Regions from separate parts of the Homo sapiens genome. Here regions 1, 2, 3 and 4 are each linked to region 5. The links come from fine-mapping of genetic effects on gene expression. A gene starts in region 5. Each other region holds a variant in brackets. All regions are shown on one strand. Distances are from middle to middle. Region 1 overlaps ETFDH (electron transfer flavoprotein dehydrogenase). Region 2 overlaps RXFP1 (relaxin family peptide receptor 1). Region 3 overlaps RXFP1 (relaxin family peptide receptor 1). Region 4 overlaps PPID (peptidylprolyl isomerase D). Region 5 holds the start of ETFDH (electron transfer flavoprotein dehydrogenase).

Evidence for each region. PIP is the estimated chance that this variant, and not a neighbour inherited with it, causes the effect.
Region 1: its variant is the best candidate, but not a certain one, in a credible set for the expression of ETFDH in tibial nerve (GTEx, PIP 0.76).
Region 2: its variant is the best candidate, but not a certain one, in a credible set for the expression of ETFDH in unexposed skin (GTEx, PIP 0.82).
Region 3: its variant is the best candidate, but not a certain one, in a credible set for the expression of ETFDH in whole blood (INTERVAL, PIP 0.62).
Region 4: its variant is the best candidate, but not a certain one, in a credible set for the expression of ETFDH in spleen (GTEx, PIP 0.72).

What each region holds. Positions count from the first base shown.
Region 1 is chr4:158,707,538-158,712,025 of GRCh38, forward strand. ETFDH (electron transfer flavoprotein dehydrogenase) reads left to right here. Exons shown (of 13, transcript NM_004453.4): 13 at 827-2,086. The coding sequence ends at 990. It overlaps PPID (peptidylprolyl isomerase D), which reads right to left. Exons shown (of 10, transcript NM_005038.3): 8 at 3,225-3,311; 9 at 3,091-3,133; 10 at 1,590-2,287. The coding sequence ends at 2,199. Among named protein-coding and RNA genes, the nearest start is that of PPID, 14 kb to the right of the region's middle. The variant T/C (reference allele first, on the strand shown) is at 2,128.
Region 2 is chr4:158,637,151-158,641,638 of GRCh38, forward strand. It overlaps RXFP1 (relaxin family peptide receptor 1), which reads left to right. Exons shown (of 18, transcript NM_021634.4): 13 at 858-929; 14 at 2,110-2,181. Among named protein-coding and RNA genes, the nearest start is that of C4orf46, 32 kb to the right of the region's middle. The variant G/A (reference allele first, on the strand shown) is at 2,581.
Region 3 is chr4:158,605,636-158,610,123 of GRCh38, forward strand. RXFP1 (relaxin family peptide receptor 1) reads left to right here. Exons shown (of 18, transcript NM_021634.4): 6 at 2,337-2,408. Among named protein-coding and RNA genes, the nearest start is that of RXFP1-AS1, 43 kb to the left of the region's middle. The variant C/G (reference allele first, on the strand shown) is at 1,677.
Region 4 is chr4:158,717,701-158,722,188 of GRCh38, forward strand. It overlaps PPID (peptidylprolyl isomerase D), which reads right to left. Exons shown (of 10, transcript NM_005038.3): 2 at 3,643-3,783; 3 at 1,480-1,586. Among named protein-coding and RNA genes, the nearest start is that of PPID, 3.5 kb to the right of the region's middle. The variant AT/A (reference allele first, on the strand shown) is at 2,657.
Region 5 is chr4:158,670,279-158,674,766 of GRCh38, forward strand. ETFDH (electron transfer flavoprotein dehydrogenase) reads left to right here and starts at 2,018. Exons shown (of 13, transcript NM_004453.4): 1 at 2,018-2,212. The coding sequence starts at 2,179. It overlaps C4orf46 (chromosome 4 open reading frame 46), which reads right to left and starts at 1,609. Exons shown (of 2, transcript NM_001008393.4): 1 at 1,338-1,609. The coding sequence starts at 1,523. RefSeq lists enhancers at 588-1,224, 1,225-1,861, 1,704-2,263, 1,865-2,366 and a silencer at 1,214-1,283.

The sequences.
Region 1 (4,488 bases), 37 kb after region 5:
GTTAAGTTTTAAATTGTGTACCATTCGGGCTTGCCCCACCCTGAATGTGAATTATCCCTTTGTCCAGCATATTCACACCTAACATTCGTTATGTTACTTGGTAGCCATCTAAGTTATCAGATTTACTGTCACATTATCATACTTGTGTCCAGTAACCCTTTAGAAATATCCCCACAACGCAAGAGTAGTGATGCTGACAATTCAGAGATGCCATAAAGTGCTTCCTTTAAGTGAAAGGAGAAAGTTCTCTATAAAGAGAAAAAAATCCTATGCTGAGGTTGCTAAGGTCTATGGTAAGACTGTATCTTCTGTGAAAGAGGAAAAAGAAATTTGTGCGTTTTGCTGTTGGACCTCGAACTGTAGAAGTTATGGCCAGAGTGTGGCAAGTGCTTCCTTAAGATGGAAAAGGCATCACATTTGTGGGTGAAATACATGAACAGAAACGTGTTCTGACTGACAATGTAAGTTGAGTACTACCTGAGGTTTCAGGCGTCTACTGGGGATCTTGGAACTTGTCCCCTGTGAATGAGAGGATGACTGTGAATAAGGGAGGACTTCGAGGTTGTGTGGAACTCAAACACTCAGTGTCGAGTACCCTTGATAGTGAGACAACTCAGCTGAATACCGCTGTACCTCCTTTTATTATGTACATGTAATTTACACTCACATCAATAGCAATGCACCAAGGTCTTCATAATCTCTATGGGTAAGCATTCAGAAAGCAACCTTTAAGGTTTCTGTGGCTACTCTTTCCTTAATTTTTACTTTTGAATTTAAAAATTTTTTAAAGTTAGGCACTTCAATATTATTTATTTTTACTTTTCAGGAGTTTATGAATTTGTACCTGTGGAACAAGGTGATGGATTTCGGTTACAGATAAATGCTCAGAACTGTGTACATTGTAAAACATGTGATATTAAAGATCCAAGTCAGAATATTAACTGGGTGGTACCTGAAGGTGGAGGAGGACCTGCTTACAATGGAATGTAAACTGCAGCTAGCCAGTTTCTTTCAAGTATGGCAAGCTAACGTTAAAATGTTTAGAGATTAACAGATTTCAGAATGTCTTTCTGCATATTACTGAACAGAATAGTCACAAAATGATTATCAAATAAAAATTTTATACTATATGTAAGATTGTCCCATAAAGAAATTACGGGTATTGCTTTTAAATAACCTTTATAAGAATGCAGCATCTTCCTACCTCTTCAGTTCTTCAGAGATTCAGTACCAAGAGCAAAATTCACTACTGGACTTTACATTTGACTTGCCAAAGTTAAGTAATCAAATATAAAAATGAATATATATTCTAGACTAAAGTTTTATTGAAACACAGCCATACCCATTGGTTACACATTGTCTATGGCTAATTTTGAATTACAACTGTGCAGGTGAGTGGGTGTGACATTACATGGTCTACAAAGCCTAAAAACTTTATGATCTGGCCCTTGCAGAAGAAGTATGCCCATCCCTGAACAAGTTTGTGTGTGTGTGTGTGTGTGTGTGTGTGTGTGTGTGTGTATTATCTATAAGTATGAAAACCTAGCATCATCCACCATGGATACATCAAAGAATCGAAGGAAACAATATACAAACTTAAGCTCTCATCTCTTTATTCAATAAGATGTGTCTTTACAAGTTTAAAAAGACTGGACACCATTATTTTTTATGAATAATGCACATAACCATTTTAAAAAACATTTTACTTGGCCGGGCACGGTGGCTCACACCTGTAATCCCAGCACTTTGGGAGGCCAAGGCGGGGTGGATCACAAGGTCAGGAGTTCAAGACCAACGTGACGTGACCAATATGGTGAAACCCCATCTCTACTAAAAATACAAAAATTAGCTGGGCGTGGTGGCACGTGCCTGTAATCCCAGCTACTTGGGAAGCTGAGGCAGGAGAATTGCTTGAACCCGGGAGGCAGAGGATGCAGTGAGCCGAGATTGCGCCACCGCACTCCAGCCTGGGTGACAGAGCAAGACTCCATCTCAAAGAAACAAACAAAACCACTTTACTTACTGTATTGTGACATGTTTATTAAGCATGAACCCCTATCAGTACTCCTAAACTGTAAACAGTAAGGAACTAAGGTGTCAAAAGAAACACATTAGGGATCATATTCA[T/C]AGACAAAAACCTTTACATTTTCTTATTGCATTTATACAATCAACACACAATAAGCAAAACTGAATCCTTTCTAAGCAAACATTTTTGCATATACTGCCTTCTCTTTATCTTTCTGTGCCTTTATCTTTTGTTTGACTTTCAGCAATTCTGCCTGGATAGCTGTAAAATAAATATGCAATGTGAGTTATTTCTCAAAATATCCAAAAAATTATGGTGACTAACAAACTATTTTAATGTTAACTACCCCTTGAAAAAACTTCTCTACAAAGTAACTAAGCCCTAGTAACAGAAAATCTGAGCAATCACACAAACACAGAAATGAAACGTAATTTTAGAGGATGTCAACTGAGAGAACTCAAGTACATCAAGATTTGCCTTCTGCCTCTACATTAGAGAACAGTAATTGCTTCCCTTGTTTCATTTTAGTAATAAGAGACCAAAGACATTTTGTAATACCCAGATCTAGTGTCACTATTCATAGTTGGTTTATTTGAAAAACAAGCTTATTTTTGTCATAGTTTCCTAAAACATATAACCAGTACATCAATACTAAGGTTATAGCCACATTCAACTTGAATGGTCCCAAATGTTAAATTTACCATGAATACTGTGTCTTACAATGCTGAGCTCTCGACTAGACTAACCAGAATAGGAACACAGTCTCAAAGGATACCATAAGACAAACAGTATTTAGACATATAAAAAACTACAGAGATGATAACTTGAAGAATAAATAACGTGAAAAACTACTATATTCTTGAATGGGAGTAGAATGTAAGCTCTTTGAGGGCAGGGACTTTGACTGTCTTGTTCATTGCTATATGATAATGCCTGGCCCAACAGCAGGCATTCTGTAGTGTCTGTTGAACAAACATCTAAAATCTGGCAAAGTGAACAATGGTTCCTGAGGATAAGTATTTAAATAACAAAATTAACTTTCACTACAAAAGCTGCCAACTTACCTTTATCTTCTGGTGCTATCCCCTGAGCTTTCTTAAGATCAGCCTTTAATTGGAAAAAAACATTTAAGTTAGGTGTATGATTTATAAAGGTAGTTGTCTATTTTAAAAAATTAAACATTTGGAACAAAATTTACCAATGCTTGATCATATTCTTTTAATCCTTGCCATCCTTGAGCTCTGCGGTACAATGCTTTGGTATTTGATGGGTCTAGTTCAAGAGCCTACAAAAAAGTATAAAGCTAGTATTTATATCAAAGTATTAAGCTTATATGCCAGATTTCAATTCATTGCCTATCAACTCCAAACCCATCCTTCACTGCTCTGTGAAAATGGAGCTGAAACATGCAAATAGCTCTCCTCTGCCAGTGGGCACTAAGTTTTGTCAGCAGAGGGCACTGAATGGACATGGAGGAGAAAGACATTTCTCTAGTTTCCAATATGCTCCCCACTGTGGTTTCAATCTCCCGAATGGGCCTGAACTAACACTTTTAAGATAAAATCATTTTGAAGAAACATTTGTATACACTTTTTACTTGAATTATAAGTTTTTTAGGAACATTAATAACTTAATAACTCTTAAGTTATAAACTCTTAAGTTTTTGTTTTTTGTTTTTTTAAGACAAGGTCTCACTCTGTGGCCCAGGCTGGAGTGCAGTGGCCTGATCACAGCTCACTGCTGCCTCAACCCCCCAGGCTCAAGTGCTCCTCCCACCTCAGCCTCCAAGTAGCTGGGACTACAGGTATGTGCCACCACACCAGACTAATTTTTTTTTTTTTTTAGAGACAGGGTTTCACCATGTTGCCCAGGCTGGTTTCAAACTCCTGGAATTAAGCGATCTGCCCGCCGCCGTGGCCTCCCTAAGTGCTGGAATTACAGGCATGAACCACCATACCCAACCTAGGTTCTTACCTACAACAGGTCTTTTAACCTAAGAGACTTTATGCATCAGGTCTCTCCCCTAGAACAAACATTTTAAAATTATCTTTTGTTTATGTAACATCTTTTAATGGCCAATACTCAGATTTTACCTGCCTCACAGGTCAAAAAGAGATCGAGGCTGGGCAGAGAGGCTCTTAACTATAATACCAGCACTTTGTGAGGCCAAGGCGGGTGGACAGCTTGAGCCCAGGAGTTAAGAGACCAGCCTGGGCAACATGTCAAAAACCCATCTCTACAAAAAATTTAAAAATCAGCTGGGTATGGTGGCAAGGGCCTGTAGTCCCAGCTACTTAGGAGGCTGAGGTAGGAGGATCACCCGAGCCCAGGAGGTTGAGGCTGCAGTGAGCTTTGATTGCATCACTGCACTCCAGCATGGGTGACAGAGAACAAAAAAAAACCCAGAGTGAAGACCCATCTTTTCTTTTGATAAGTTTTTTCCTCTGTTGTATGATCCCTTC
Region 2 (4,488 bases), 33 kb before region 5:
ACACTTGGGTTGAATCCATACCTTGGCTATTATGAATAATGCTGCAATGAATATGGGAGTACAGAAATCTCTTTAATATACTGATTTTATTTCCTTTGGATATATATCCAGTAGAGGAATTTCTGGATCATGTAGTAGTTCAATTTTTGATTTTTGAGGAAGCCCCATACTATTTTCCATAATGGTTGTACTAATTTATATTCCCATCACCAGTATGCAAGGGGCAACCTTTTCTTCAAATCATCCTCAACCCTTATCTTTCATCTTTTTGATAAAAATTATTCTAAAAGGTGTGAGGTAATATTGTGGTTTCAGTTTGCATTTCTCTGATGATTAGTGATGTTGAGCACTTTTTCATATACCTGTTAGTCATTTATATGTCTTCTTTTGAAAAATGTCTATTCAAGCCCTTTCCCTAATTTTTAACCAGCTTATTTGTTTTCTTGCTGAGTTGTTTGAGTTCCTTACACATTTTGGGTATTAACCACTTACCAGATATATGATTTGCAAATATTGTCCCCCATTACACAGGTTGTCTCCTCACTCTGTTGATTGTTTCCTTAGCTGTGCAGAGGCTTTTTAGTTTTATGTAATCCCATTCATCTATTTCACTTTTGTTGCCTATATTTTTGGGGCAATATCCAAAAAAATCATCACCCAGGTTAATGTCCTGGGGCTTTCCACCTATGTTTTCTTCTAGTCGTTTTATAATTTTACAGTTTAAGTCTTTCATCCATTACGAGTTATTGTATACTTTCGTTCATAAATATGTTAAAGTAACCCAAAATAAACAGATTCACTCGCTTTACTCATGTAGTTTTTAGAAATGACCTATTGCTGCTTTTTTTAAAAAACAGGAATCTTTCCTATAATCCAATCCAGAAAATTCAAGCAAACCAATTTGATTATCTTGTCAAACTCAAGTCTCTGTAAGTATTCACATATGGGGATAGTTTTATGATAAAATTGTTTTTTAAATACTAACAATGTATATTTTTATATATTTACTTCAAATCATAAGCTTTATTTCCAAGACATTAGTTTAGCTCCACAAAAACATATGGGTGCTTGCTGAACTATAAACAGACAACTATTAGTTTTATCTTATATACTTGTAAATTAAAAAATAATGATGAATTATTTTATATTTTTCTATAAGTCATTAGGAGCTTATGTTGATTTGTTTGCTTTGACCCTTCAAAGACATCTGTGCATATTCACTCTCTTAACACTGGGTATTTTATAATTTATTATAAGTGTTTTTACCCCAAGATGGAATATGCTAGATTATATAAATCCTTACTTGTACCACACACACACAAAAAGACAAAAATTCTGTTAGAGCCAAAGAATTGCCTTAAAAGATAAGCTTCAGGGCTGAGTGCAGTGGTTCACACCTGTAAACTCAGCACTTTGGGAGTCCGAAGCAGGAGGATTGCTTGAGATCAGGAGTTGAAGAACAACCTGGGCAACATAGGGAGATGCTGCCTCTACAAAAAAATAAAAATAAGCAAATTAGTTGAGTGTGGTGGCATGCACCTGTGGTCCTAGCTACTTGGGAGGCTGAGGTGGGAACATTGCTTGAGTTGGGAGGTTGAGGCTGCAGTAAGCCCTGTTCATACCACCACACCAGCCTGGGCAACAGAGGAAGACCCTGTCTCAAAAAAAAAAAAAAAAGGTAAGCTTCAGTTCATTTAATTTGAGTGTTCCCTCAGTAAAATGACATTTTATTAGAAAAAAATTTATTAATTAAAAATTACTAGGAAATTTTCAAGGATGTAAAGCATCCTCTGCTATTGTAATATTGTACAAAAGATAATGCTTGTGCATTTATTCCACACATATTTATTGATTAGTTAAAATGCACAAAGCATTGTGCCATGATCTGTGAGGATCTGAAAAAAATCAAATAAGGAAGATAATACGTGTATAAATAACACAATCAGAAGGAGGAGGATTTGGGGAAGTGGGTGGGTTGAGTATAATTATTTTGTTCAGAGTAAGTGTTAACTAAAAGCATTTTATTAAATTGTCCTTCACAGAAACTCAATTTATTAAACCATGTATAATACATGTTCCTTTGATTGATTATTAATTTGATATTTTTAGCAGCCTAGAAGGGATTGAAATTTCAAATATCCAACAAAGGATGTTTAGACCTCTTATGAATCTCTCTCACATGTAAGTAGATATTTTATTGTTTTTCACTGTGATGTTAATATTTGTTTCCATGTGTATTATGATAATGCATCCAATCTATTAATATTTTCTACTAATTTGCCAGCTATAAACTGAAAGTTTGTGTTCCTCCAAAATGTATATATTGAAATACTAACCCCAATGCAATGGTACAAGGAGGTAGGGCCTTTGGGAGGTGACTAGGTCATGAGGACAGAGCCCTCATGAGTGGGATTAGTGCCCTTAGAAAACAGACTCTGGTCCAGGCCAGTGGCTCATGCCTGTAATCCCAGCACTTTGGGCGGCCGAGGTGGGTGGATCACCTGAGGTCAAGAGTTCAAGACCAGCCTGGCCAACATGGTGAAACCTCGTCTCTACTAAAAATACAAAAATTAGCCAGTC[G/A]TGGTGGTGATTCCAGCTACTCAGGAGGCTGAGGCAGGAGAATCGCTTGAACCCTGGAGGTGGAGGTTGCAGTGAGCCAAGATGGTGCCACTGCACTCCAGCCTGGGCGACAGAGTGAGACTCCATCTCAAAAAGAAAAAAAAAGAAAAGAAAAGAGACTCTGGAGACGACCCTTGCCCCTCCACCTTGTGAAGACAGACAGAGAAGATGGCCATCTATGAAACATGTGGTCCCCTACCAGACACTGAATCTGCTGGCACCTTGATCTTGGTCTTCCCAGCCTCCAGAACTGTGAGAAATGAACATTTGTCGTCTAAGTCACTCAGTCTATGGTATTTTTGTTACAGCAGCCAAGTGGACTGAGACATGTCTAAACAATAATTAAAACTCTTAAACCTTTGATATTGGGTGAGATGATTTTAGTTTTCCACAGTCTGGTAGAATCTCATAGGAGATTTTTTGAATCTCAGGAAACATGATGTGAGGGGAATCCACTTGGTCTTGTAAGAAGTTCTCCTCAGCTCTAATAACTGTTCACAGATATTGATGTTTGCCTAATGAGCTAGTAATTGGTGTATAGGGTGTGTTAGTCCATTTTGCATTACTACAAAGGAATATCGGAGGCTCGGTAGTTTATAAGGAAGAGTTTATTTTGGCTCACAGTTCTGTAAGTTGTAAGAGAAGCATGGTACCAACCTCTAATTTTGGTGAGGTCGTCAGGAAAGCTTTTAATCATGGCAGAGGACAAAGAGGGAGTAGGTGTGTCAAATGGCGAGAGAGAAAGCCAGAGAGAGAAGAGGAGGTGCCAGCTCTTTTTAACAATCAGATTTCATGTGAAATAATAGAAGGAGAACTCACTTATTACTGCAGGAAGGACACCACACCATTCATGAGGGATCTACCCCATGACCCAAACACCTCCTACTGGGCCCCACCTCCAACATTGGGAATCAACTTTTGACATGAGATTTGGAGTAGACAAATATCCAAACTATATCACATGGTACAAGTGCTACCAGATGAAGAGGAAGGAATTTATATAGGCAATATAAAATAATTATAAATAAATCAATGCTGCAAATGAAGGTAGTTAAGAAGAAGTCTTTCTCAATGAAAATATCCCCATATATCAAGGCATGATTCAAGCAAGCGTGCATGGATGAAATGGTAAACTTTGAAACATCTTTTATTCAAAGAGTATGTCTAGTTGTACCTGTGATTACATGCTTTAGAAGCACTTTTTTAATTGAATGCAATTTCATAGCAGTTATTAGAATGATCCATGCCATGGAAATTAATTTTCAATAATTTAGATACTGTCAGCTACCATCAACTCTGTAATCTTGCTTGTATTTTAAGTCTAACACAGAACCCTGTTTTTGTTTTCCATAGTTCCTCAGAAAGATGGCTTATAAAAGATTCCTTTCTTGTATGCAACATAAAGCAATCTGACTAAATTAAACAGAACAGAATTTATTGGAAGAAAATGGTATAACACAGAATCTGAGGAATAATTTATAGCCTCTGGAATTATCCATCCAAGTGTCATTCAATCAGATTCAGTTTCAGGGAAGAGAATCTAGTTGATCACGTCTAGGGTACTTACCTACTCTGGGCTAGGGATTGCCTCCACTGAAGGTCCCACCATAACTTCTCAAAAAGGGAGAAGTAATTCTCTCAAAGGAAATCAGAACACTATTATCAGAAGAGTGATTGAGTGCTGGGCAGCCAAAGCGGCAAACAGAGTTACTATAATTCTGTTGATAAAAGCAAAACTTCAGCCTAAGACACATAGTAAAATACCAATCAACACTCCTTCTTTCCTCATGTTCTGCTCTCCTGTCCTTCATGGTTTACAGAATAAATGGATATAACCGAATGGGGAAATATCAGCAATTGACCTTGAGC
Region 3 (4,488 bases), 65 kb before region 5:
TTGTGAGTTGCGTTTTATTTTGGCCTTGAGTAGTATCTGACATGCTAGCTTCCCTTCAGAACTCTCAAAATCCATACTGGCCCACGGGATGTTTACCTGTTATTTAGGTCTACTTTGTGACTAAATTATGTTGTCATATGGTGAATTGCTGGGTTTAGATAGTCTGTACCTAAATCACACTAACTAAGAAATATCTCAGGATTCATTGTTTCATTTTTATACCAATATAGATTGGTTCTTATTTTGGTTTTACAATAGGGAAACCTGATAAATTAATATATATCTGTACATTTTTAAAGATAACAGATGGAAATTGAGTGGAATCAGAAGAAGAATTAACCCACTTCCTTCAGTGAAATGTTCTAAAAACCCAGATAGTCTGCAGAAGTATCTATTTCATATTTGAAAATAGAAATTCTAATGAAAATAACTTTTCAAAATTTCATTCTGAACATTTATCAGTCAAAAGAGAAGAACTTTTCACAATTAGGCCTGACAAAACTTCAAGAGTACACTGACTTATTCTATTTTCTGATTTCTGGAGACTGAAGAATTTTTCTGTAGCATCACCTTGTGTCCACTTATTTAAAGGAGCTAGACTACAAATCTAAATATCAAAATTCAGGTTTATATAATGCAGTGGCTTAGCATTTTTGCACAATAAACATTGAATTAATTCTCTTTTTTGAACTAACCACCATACTAATGTGGATGAATTAATTCCTGAATGACCAATTTGTTCCATATAACAAAATGATCAAAATAGCCTAATTATTTAAAAATTTCTAATTGGTTATTAAAAGTCTATACCTTTAGACCTCCAGGCAATGCAGCCTATTCCTTAGTAGATCATTATAACACTAGAAATAAACAAACAAATGCATGATAAATGAGAACCATTCATTACCTACTACATGATTGGGCCCACAGCATGTCCGGTTCAGGTGCATAATAATTTTTTTTTAAGAGACAGGGTCTCACTCTGTCACTCATGCTGGAGTGCAGTAGTATGATCATAGTTCATTGCACCCTCAAACTCCTGGACTTAAGTGATCCTCCCACCTCAGACTCCCAGGTAGCTAGGACTACAGGCATGTGCCACCACACCTGGCTCCTTTTTTTTTTTTTTTTAGAGAGATAGGATCTCACTATGTTGCCCTGCCTGGCTGGTCTGTTTCAAATGATCCTCCTGCCTTGGCCTCCCAAAGCTCTGCAATTATGGGCATAACCCACTTCACCCAGCCTATAATAAATTTTATAATAACATTTCACAATCAAAGTTAGGTTTTCTTGCATGTTGGAGAAATAGGGTACTTTTCAGTCAAAATTTATAATTTAACTGAATGTTCGCTCATATTGATTTCTTTCTTATTGCTCCTAAAAGTTATAACAAATTGCATATAAACTTTCAGGACACTCTAAAGAACAATGGTGACCTGCACTCAGAACATGAAGGCAGCCTTGAAATCCTTACTTTATCATTCCCGCAATCTGGGGCAAGTACACATAGAAGTGCAAAACTTTGTGTGGGTGCAATGATGCAATAGCGTATACTCTGGTACCCATTTCCTTTGACCTCCAGTTAACTCAAGGTCGTATTTTCAGTATTACTTTAGTTAACTATGTAAGCCTGCATTCTTGTCTTGACATTCCAATCTAATTTATATTCTTCTAGT[C/G]CTGATTATTTTTATGTTTTTTTTCTTTTGCCACTTTTACTCCTTATAAATTTCCTCCAAACAGTCTTTGGAACAAGGTTTGGATGTCAAATTAATGAGATCAAAATTGATTTGGTTGACAGATTTGTGATTAACATAGAATATGGTTTGGGACATTAAAAACATCATACACTTTTAGGTTGGCTAGCACTGTGTTGAGCACTTAACAAGTTTAAAGAATTATAACAAGACCCGTATTAAAAGTCTGGCTTCTAGACTTCTGATTTATGAGGGCTTTACTATGTGTTAACATTTTATTTCTAGAAAATTCAAATAGTAAGCTTTGGCTGTTATTCATTCATCTTTATAACTAGAATTTCTAAATACAAACCAGCCTAATTGTACATAAATTTAACAGAAACATGAAGTGACATGATATCTGGCTTCACTAAATTATTTTGTAATGTTTACCTTTTTCAATTTTTAAAATGTTTAATCGTCATCAAATACACATAACATAAAATGTGGCATCTTAACCATTTTTAAGTCTACCTTCAGAGGCATTAAGCACATTCATATTGCTATGCTACCATCACCATCATCCATCCACAGAATTCTTTTTGTCTTGCAAAAGTGAAACTCTGCTTCATTTTTTTTTCTTTTTAATAATCATTTTCACAGGTACCTGCAAAACAATAAGATTACATCCATCTCCATCTATGCTTTCAGAGGACTGAATAGCCTTACTAAACTGTAAGTACCAGTGTGAATTAATTTGCCCATTCCATGGTAGTCTGACAGCCTAGACTATTCCAATCCAGACCAGCCTCCCTGTCCATGACAGTACCAAGGAGCCATGCAAGTGATGCTGAAGGGGCAGTAGAGCACCGTGGCTAAGAGCATAGGATTGTGAGTTAGACAGGCTTCAGTCCAAGTCCTGATTGCCTTACTTACTAGGTGTGTGATCTTGAGCAATTTGTATTCCTTTCTTTTTTTTTTTTTTTTTTTTTTTTTTTTGAGACAGAGTCTCTCTGTCACCCAGACTGCAGTGCAGTGGCGCAATCTCAGCTCACTGCAGCCTCCGCCTTCCAGGTTCAAGCAATTCTCTGCCTCAGCCTCCCGAATAGCTCCAGCATCCAGCATGAGCCATAGACCAAGACCCTGTCTCTGACAAAGAAAAAAAAAAAGCCTGATGATGATATTTGTGATGAAGAAGAAAAAACCCAAAGACTTCCCCAGTTATTCAATTACTCTTTCTTCACTAATCCCACTTTTACAAATGCATGAAATACTGTAAGGTTAAAGAAATAAAGCTTTTTGTGGTAAAATATACATAAGCTAAAATTCACCATTTAACTGTTTTTAAGTAAACCATTCAGTGGCATTAAGTACATTGACATTGTTATGGAACCATCATCACCATCCACCTCCAAAACTTTTTCATCTTCCCCAACTGAAACTCCATATTTGTTGAATAATAATTCCTCATATCTGTCTCTCCCAATTTCCCCCTCTCCCCAGCCCCTGGCAACCATCATTCTACTTTCTGTATTTATTAATTGGCTACTTTAAGTACCTCATATAAGGAGAATCATAAAATATGTAGTTTTTTGTGTCTGGTTTATTTCACTTAGCACAATGTCTTTAATGTTCACGTGTTGTAGCATGTGTCAGAATTTCCTTTTTTAGGGCTGAATAATAGTCCATTGTATTTATGTACCACATTTTGTTTAACTGTTTATCTGTCAGTGGACATTTGGGTTGTTTCCACCTTTTGGCTGTTGTGAATAATGTTGCCATCAACACAGGGATACAAATATCTGTTTGGGTCCCCACTTTCACTTTCACTTCTTCTGGGTATATACCAAGAATTGGAATTGCTAAATCAGATGGTAATTCTTTGATTTTTGAGGGACTGTCATTTGATTTGATTTTGATTTTTTAAGGGACTGCCATACTATTTTCCACAGCAACTGTACCATTTTACTTTCCAACTAGTGTTGCACAAGAGTTCCGATTTCTCCACATCCTCACCAACGTTTGTGTTCTCGTTTCATTTGTTTGTTTTGACAATAACTATCCTAATGGGTGTGAATGGTATCTCATTGTGCTTCTTTTAAAAAAAAAGGCTTTCTCAATGTTCCGTTTTATTGAGTTCTGCCATGCAGCATTCTAGAAGTAACTGGAAAGAAGTATAACCAAAAATCACATGAATACATAACTCCCTGTATTTCCATTTATGTCCCCTTGTTTTCCACCTATACTGTTCTGTATCCTAACGCAAGAAACCCATTCCAGTCAGATTTTTGGCTTGTGGTATCAGAGTTTGGGATTGAGTCGAGAAGAGCACCTAGTAATTTACTAGCAAAATGGAAGAAGACTGCAGGAGACTCGAAGCCTTAACAGTAACCACTTTAGCCATGTCCTCTCCCCTTCTACCCCATCTCTGCTCTTTTATGTCTTAGCAAAGTACCCAGAATCAATATTGGACTCACTCTTCAGGCTCCTGACTGTCTTCTTTCCATATATCTTTGCAAAATTTACTAAACACTATCTGTTTGGTTTAATGTTCAGTGAATGTGGAGGAAGCTCTTGAAAGGCAGTACAGAACTGGAGAGTAAACTTAAAAGTGTCCTCCCTCTCTTTTCATAGCTTTTCTATAGTGCTGGAGTGTTGTTGAGTGTTAAAGATGCCACATATTTCTAGTTAAATAATCATTAGTCCCAGCACTTTGGGAGGCTGAGGTGGAAGGATCACGAGGTCAGGAGATGGAGACCATCCTGGCTAACACAGTGAAACCCTGTCTCTACTAAAAATACAAAAAATTAGCCGG
Region 4 (4,488 bases), 47 kb after region 5:
AATTTACCCAAGACATTCAGTTTGGTACTTTCCTAATCTCAAAAGAATCCAAATCATACAGGATTTGGATTAGGTTTTCATCCCAGATGAATCACCTCTTCGGAGAGTGCTCAAAAGAAACTGCTGCATACATCTTGAAATCAAAATTCTACCTTGGCATAATCCTGTCAAAGGATCTATGAAACCCAATTTCTTAACCTTTTCACTTTATCTCCTAGGCTTTCTAAATGTATTCCTTGTTGGTGCATGCACCGTAACTCTCATGTTATATAATGTTTCATGACACCCCCCACCCCACCAAAATGCCTTTTACTCCCCTCAGTCTAAATCAAATTCAGATTTTAAGGCCACCACGTTTATAGAAAGCAAGAATCATGTGTCTTGTCTATAGGCCCCTTTTCTCTATGTCAATGTGATCATCACATCACCTTTAGTTTTCATCCTTCTGGTAGCTTCCTTTGGTACAACAGTAACTAGAACTTTATTTCCTCAACGTCTCTTGCCTTTGTCTTTCCTCACCGACGTCCCTTTTTAAATTCTGCATCAATACTACAGTTCCTGCCTAACCAAATCTCAGACATGTTGCCGCCTTGCAAGACCCAGTCTGCACAGCCCAAGTAGCCATTCCTCCTCAATGACTTCCATAATAATTCAGACTGCATAAATCACATCTTTCTCCTGCAGTATATAGACAGTATTAGCAATGTTATACAAGCAAGGATATTCAATCAATTTAGCATTTATTTATATACTATTATTCTCCAGTAGTCCCATGTATCTTAATCTTGTCTCTGAGGTAGGATTATAAATTCCTTGTCATCAAGGCCTTTCATTTTTATAAACCCTTTGGTGCCAGTGATAGTGGCTCAATAAACACTGACTGGAAGACTGACGACATTTTTTCAAATTATCCTAATACCCTTGCTCATATTCCTTATTTCCAAAAATATCACTTTACTTTTGTACTTACATGTCCATTCTTATAACTTGAATGATGCAATATACCCCAATTACATCTTGGGACAACGAAGACAAGAAGGCACAGGCACCACTGAAGTCCTTTAGGAGCTTGGACATTTAACTATATCTGCTAGTGTGCAAATCCCCTGACATCCTGGATATTAGTGATGGTTTTGTTGCTCTTCAAATTCAAGGATAAGGATGCACAAGTTACCATCCTTCCAACAATGGAAACATTTTTCCTGGAAACAATTTTGCCAGATGCTGGTCGCATTTAAAAACTCACTGGCTTAACTGAAGCATATAAAAACTGGATCACAATGAAATAATGCTGAATTAATCATTACTGAATGAAAACTTTTCCATATTAAAGAACCATTATTTACAAAAGTGATTCCTATTACAAGAAATGGAGAATCTAAGCACACTTGAAACATTTTTTGGTGTCTTAATCCAACAAGTATTCCAGATATATAACAATCTTTTTATCAGCAATAACATGCATTTTCTCTACTTTACCTTGTAATGGAAATTTTCATCTTCAAATTTTTCACCATAAATACTTTCTCCACCTGTCCCATTCTGATTTGAGAAGTCTCCACCCTGAATCATAAATTTCTTAATAACTACAAAAAAGGAAAATGGCTATTAGTGACTGAGACATGGATGCCTTTAGCAATGCTTACTAATGGATACGTACGTAAGACAACTTTGTAGTGCATGACTCTAGTCATGTCTCTCTCCTGTTTGTCGCTCCCCACCCGTCTCCGCAACTCCAAACGCTTCAGGCTTTTCACCATCTGAATCCAACCTATTTTCACTGCCTGATCCCTGCTAACATTCAGAAAATCGGTTCAAATGATACCTCCCCTATAAAACTGTCACTGAAATCCCTAAGCTGTATGTCCTAATTTTTCTCCCATAGTATCTTGACTCTGCCTACATAACATATGGCATTATGATCTGCCCCTTCCAGCAATGATCTCCTTAAGTACACCAACTGTATTGTTTTACATCCTTATAACTATGTGCATGTACACATAGTACATATTAGTTACTCAATAATGTCTGCTGAATACAGACCAATGATTCCCAGTAGATTTGTTCTACCCTAATGGAAAATTTTCAGCAAATATATCACTTTGTGTCAAAGGTTACCAAGATTGCTTTCATGTTCAGAGAACCCTAGAGCTCACACAAATCAGTATGTGGTTGGATCACAGTGGTAAGGATACACAGCGAGATGACGGGAAAGACACAGGCAGAGTCTGGAAAAATCCATGTGCAGGCTTCCTTATGCTTTCTCCGTCCCATGAAGTGCTACAGAACACACACTTCCCCCAGCAACAAAAATGCAGCAACATGTACACAGTATTTCTGCCCAGGAGAGCCAATTAGAGACTCAGCACCCAAGGTATTTATTGGGCACACTCTACCTAGCATGTACCAAAATTCCAGACTCCCCAAAAGAGAGCACACATTCATGTTTGTACAAATAGGCTAGGCATAGTAAATCACCATTACTATTTAGGAAATGGTACAAGTGTCAAGTTCCCAGACTCCAAACAAGTGCTACTCTTGCAGGCAGACCTTTCTAAAGATAGCAGTCTCACACTTGCTATGTTAAATATTTTCTGCATATAGTTTATTAGCATATTTCAAGTTTTTATTAAACATGAAAGTAAACATTTTAAAT[AT/A]TTTTTAAAAAGTTAATTTTTTCTTAATAAATCGTTTAAAAAATGTTGCTCTTGTGATTATTGCTTATTTGCCTATTTATTAAACAAATACTTACTGAGTTCTTACTCAATAACTGTATTAGATGCCAAAAACAAAATGGTGAAAACATACAGTTCTTGAACTCATAGAGCCTGCAGTCTATTGGGAGAACCATTATCACTAAACAAAAGTATGATTCATTACAAAGTGTAATAAGCAGTATGAAATGGCATATTTTGACCACACTATCACCCATGTGCCCAAAACACTGAATCTTCAAATCTGCTGCCTTCCCAAGCACTCAGGCCCAAAAATTATGCATTTTTTTGTTTGTTTGTTTGTTTGTTTGTTTGTTTGAGGCAGAGTCTCACTCTGTCGCCCAGGATGGAGTGCAGTGGCGTGATCTCGGCTCACTGCAAGCTCCACCTTCTGAGTTCATGCCATTCTACTGCCTCAGCCTCCCGAGTAGCTGGGACTACAGGCGCCCACCATCACACCCGGCTTATTTTTTGTATTTTTAGTAGAGACGGGGTTTCACCGCGTTAGCCAAGATGGTCTCGATCTCCTGATCTCGTGATTCACCCGCCTCAGCCTCCCAAAGTGCTGGGATTACAGGCGTGAGCCACTGCGCCCGGTCTATGCATAACTTTTTTGTCACCAGGCAATGAAGCTACCTAAGGTTGGTTGACTACGGCCTTCCTTTCTCAATCAAATCATCTTAGAGTGAAGGAGAATGAGAGGATGGGTAAAGCTAGGGGAGTCCATTTCTCTATAGATAAACCTTAGTACCATAAGTAATTCCACCTCGCACAGCCTAACCTTTACGAAACTGCGTTACTGCCTCAGACATGGACGCTAATAGTACTTTTTAAGCTTCACTTCCTACTTAGTGTTTTCTTCCCCAAATCCTAAAGAACAGGACTTGTCTGTATGAAGAATAACAAGATTAAGAAAATTTACACATACTTCGATGAAAAGGGCATCCTTTGAAATGGAGAGGTTTCCCAGTCGTGTGTCCAATGCCTTTTTCTCCTGTACACAGTGCACGAAAATTTTCCGCAGTTTTGGGTACGATATCTGCAAACAATTCTAAGACAATTCGACCAACTAAAAGAAAAGAAAATCTTGTCAGTATGCAAAACAACCAAATAGACAAATGATAAAAAGAAGGTTGGTATAATTATGGTAGCAGATCAATCATGAATTACCAAGTTCCCCTTTACTGTAATTTTTCTTTTTTGCAATTTCAAGAACACAACACATTGCTACTAACTATAGTCATTATGTTATACAATAGATCTCTTAAATTTATTCCCCCTTTCTAACTGAAATTAGGTCTCTCGTGATCAACATCTACCCAACCCCTGAAATCCACCATTCCATTCTCTACTTCAAGGTCAACTTTTTAGAAACCACATGTAAGTGAGATCATGCCTTGTCTTCCTGTGCCCAGCTTATTTCATGTAACATAATGTCCTCCATATTAATTCATGTTGTCAGAAGTGACAAGATTTCATTATTTTTTATGGGTGAATAGTACTCCACTGTGCACATATATCAAATTTTAAAAAAAATCCATCTGTAGATGGAAACCTAGTTTGATTCCATTATCTTGGCTATCATGAATAATGCTGCAATGAACATGGGAGTGCAGATACCTCTTTGACATACAAACTTCATTTCCTTTGAATATACTCACTAGAATTAGTGAATCTTATTTTATTCTAATATTCAAATTTAGTCTACCTACTGTCATGTATGTATATAAACAGATTTGAAACATTACACTAAGGATCATAACCAATTATAGTA
Region 5 (4,488 bases):
TCCCAAAGTGCTGGGATTACAGGCGTGAGCCACCGTGCTTGGCCCAGGATTGCTGTTTTCTATGAAAATACACTAGAGTCTCAGCTCAACAAGATGACTTGGACCCCTTGACACTAAGCGCCAGATATATCTGAGAGATTTCATCATAAATAATTCTTACTGCTATTTGGGTAACATGGGCATTGACCTGTGAACACTTTAAACAATGAAAATGTATAGATCAAAGAACAGAAACTCTGAGCTCTGACAAATAACATTAAAAAATCACACACAAATGCAGAAAACACTCAGCTCCTGGTGGAAAATTCACTTTTCAGCCAAACGTTTTCTTCACCAATGATATAAAATAAAACAGTGTTCCTCAATAACACATTAGCACTTCATTCTACATATTTACTTGCAATCAGTTTGTTCTGCAAAAATAAAAGCTGGTTAAGCACTCTAGTCATCCTTAAAAAAAAATACTTGCGGAGCAATGAGATAATCTAGTTCATCCCCTAGTTTCCAATCTGCAGGAAAGGTCAGGCCACAGAACTCTCCCAGGTTACACTCTACATACCTCATTCCACTTGACCCACTCAAGAGAACATAAAACTCCCCTTCCCTGTCTTCTCCCCTCCAGTGGTGTGTGAGTTACGGTTGGGAGGTGGGGTGCTAGTTTCTGGGGATTCGAGATTTAACAGAAACTATCCTAAGTATGCATTCTAGCAATCATACAAAGGGAGGAGTCCTGAACTAAACCGTCAAAGAAGCCAATCCACGTGACCTAAACCCTTCAAGCTGGGTCCAGCGCTAAGCAGGCCTGGGGCAGACAATGGCATTATCAGCTGTCCCTGGGCAGGTGGCCAACTAGAACAGCAGGCTCTAAGTCCCATGGAAAGAAATCACAGCCTGATCTCAAGTACCCACAGAAAGCCAGCAAACTCATGCAGTGAAAACTATTCTCCGAAACCCATGCAATGAAAACTATTCTCCGATGGGAAAGGAGGAGGCAGAGAGCCAGCAACAGGCAGCGCAGAGCTGCGTGGCTTCGGGTTACTGCGGATGATTGAAACCAGAAGGCGAGACAAAAAGAAACCAGTGAGGGGTGGGGCGGGTGGAAGGAAAACCCCTTAAGACTCCTCACCACTAAATCTAAAGGGGGAACCCTCAGAGAGGGGTGGCACTTTAGCTGCTGGCATCCCCCCCGCTTCCCGCCCGCACGCTCTGGGGCGCAGAAGGGCCGGTCGTCCCGGGTCATGGGGGTTGGGGGACCGATTCCCTAGCCTCGCGAGCCCCGCCGCCGCCGGTCTTCCCAGAGGCGCCGAGGGGGGACGCGGTCCCGACACCACACTCACGTCTCCGATCTGCAGCTCCACTTCCTCCAGCTGGTCCACCGTTGGGCCGCTGCTCCTGCTCGGAACTGGCCAGCCCAAACTCACTGGGCCGCCCGGGGAAGATGCTGCAGAGGCGTCTGAAGAGGAGGGAGAAGAGGGAGGCGGCGGGGGCGGCGAAGAAACCTGCAACTCCTCAGGGTCGGCCATGGGGAAGGGTTGGGACCGCGGAATCCGACCCGAGAAGCCGAACCGACACCAACTGTCTTTTAACCACTCGCGCCCAAAGCCGAAAGGCCCCGCCTCCTAACGCCAGAAATCCCGCCCAGTCTCCTCGTGGGTCTCAGCCCCGGACCACAAAGACGTTTCATTTTTCGGGACAGCCAATCATATGAGTCAATTCACCTTAGGCAACTCACGGCTCCTGCGCGAGCCTCCAATCGATCTCGAAGGGCACTCGTAGAGAAAACTACACCTCCCAGGAAGCCGTGTGCGTCGCCCCGCCTTCTACTGCCTTTCACTGCGCGTGCGTCGTGCTGTGGGATTCGCGGACCCCTCTGGCCGCGCTGTGGCTGTTTCACCGCTCCCCGGCTGGGACTTGGAGTCCCTTATCTTTCCCTGGTTTGGTACATGACCCGGAAGCCTCGGCTGGCCGTTGCGTCATCCATGGCGCCGGCGCAGAGCGAGAAGGAGGTGGGAACGCCGTGAAGCAAGAGCGGTCGGCAGAGCGGGGAGGCGAACTGCAGCAGAGTTCTTGCTTTCCGGCAGGTGATGGCGCCCCCCGCGGCCTAGAGGTCCAGCGCCCGCCGCGAGCAGCGGACAGTCCTCCTGTTGTGTCCGACCGAGAGTCCTGGTGACTTTGAACATGCTGGTGCCGCTAGCCAAGCTGTCCTGCCTGGGTGAGAGGAAACGGGCGGTGGGGATAAGTGGAGGAGTTAGGGCAAAAGGGACAAGGCCGGTCCTGGGGGCTGTAGGCACCTCTCGCCCCTTCTCTCATCAGCTTTCTCAGGCTATCTAGGGCAAAGGTCACGCGCTGTCAGCCTGTTGGGGGACCCTGGCTTCCTCCCTCTGGGGTTGCCCCAGTTGGTAGAATTAATATCTAGGCTAAAGGTCAAGGGCGGGGAAAACTTGTCAACACGCCCTCGGCATCACCACCACCTGTCAACACACACACACCTCGGTGGACTCCTGAACTGAGGCTTCCCAAATCCTGGTTCTAATCTTCAAACCTCTGTTGGAAATGGAAAAAAAAAAATCGTATTTGCCCAGTTTTTCTCCCTGGTCCTGACCTGACTTTCGTCTTCGGAGCCATTCTAGTTCAGTCTAAAGAAATTGAAGTCTGATCTGTCACATCATGGTTAACATTCATATGTTGACCAAGTCACCCAAGTGTATCTGGAGCCAGTTTTTCTGCGTTGTCTAAAATTAAGGGCTGGGCGTGGTGGCTCAAGCCTGTAATCCCAGCACTCTGGGAGGCTGAGGCGGATGGATCACCTGAGGTCAGGAGTTCAAGACCAGCCTGGCCAACATTGTGAAACCCCATCTCTACTAAAAATACAAAAATTAGCTGGGCGTTGTGGCCCACTCCTGTAATCCCAGCTACTCAGGAGGCTTAGGTAGGAGAATCACTTGAACCCGGAGGTGGAGGTTGCAGTGAGCTGAGATCGCACCACTGCACTCCAGCCTAGGTGAAAGAGCCAGACTCCGTCTCAAAAAAAAATTAAATTAAATTAACTCTAAGGGCTTTATCGTGTTATGGGTATTCTGTGAACCATCGTGACAGATGAAGTTGGATGGTCTTTTTAAAGTTTTACTTAAATTTTTGTTGTTGTCGTTAATTCAAACAGAAAAGTTCCCTAAAGGATCTCATATTCTGTCATAACTGGCTTAATTTTTTTAAATCTTTAGTTTACTTAAGTTTTGGTGATAGAATCATTAAGTCTAAATATTCCAAATTCAAGGATATTCTTATGAAATTTCATGAAAGTAGAATTTTGTTAAATTTGGCTTCCATATATTAAGAAATTAGAACTTTGTTTAAATTTCATGTCACCCATGCATTTTTTGCTGCACTTAATGTATGGATAAGATGGTGTTTGGAACGTTAAAGTAGTCAGATGCTATCTGCCTTAGAGCCTAATTTAGATGCAATCAGCCTTGGGCCCAGTGCTAACCAAATTCCACTACCATTTCTGTTTTCTTTGGATGGCAATTCATTGCCATTTTCGTAGCCTGCTGGCATGAAAGAGGTAGACACCAATGTGCCATCAGTGTGACTTTGATATGGTGATGCTATGAGTTCAGTGGACTTTGTGACTTCTCTTCTCAACCACGGAGACTGAATATTCCAATCTCTAAAGTGAGATATCAGATGTGTTTTCAGAAAAGGGGTAAAGGTTGTGACTTTTTTTTCCAATCCTTTGGAGAAATTCAGACTACACAGTTCCAAATATTCTCAAGAAAATCAGTAGCTATACAAGCAGTAGAAATAGTTTGTCATATGTCAGTCATCAGTTTTCAGAAGTAAATAACTTCTATGCACTAAACTACAATGCATTGAAAACTAAATATTTTAAATATTCGTTATAGTGTATTTGAACTCTTGAACTGAGTTCTAGAATATCTTTATGTATTTAATATACTTTTTTTTTTCCAAAATTGAGGATAGGTGAATAGTTATCTAAGGCTTAAAAAGTGTTGCCAATATAGTTTTTTTGTTTTTTGGGGTTTTTTTGACACAGTCTTGCTCTGTTGACCAGGCTGGAGGGCAGTGATGTAATCTCAGCTCACTGCAACCTCTGCCTCCCGGGTTCAAGTGATTCTCGTGCCTGAGCTTCCGTAGTACCTGGGATCACAGGTGCCCACCACCATGCCTAATTTTGTATTTTTAGTAGAGACGGGGTTTTGCCATGTTGGCCAGGCTGGTCTCAAACTCCTGGCCTCAAGTGATCCTCCTACCTCAGCCTCCCAAAGTGCTGGGATTATAGGCATGAGCCACCATGCCTGGCCCCAGTGCTATAGTTTTTAGTATGCGTAAGTAAGTTCATTTCTTTGCCACTTTAAAAAAAATGACCAAACACAGATTTTTATTGCCTTTTCACAGAAAATTACTCTGAAAAGCATTAATCTTTTATAGTACCATGTGTCAAGGACTATCTAATATTTAGTCAACAAA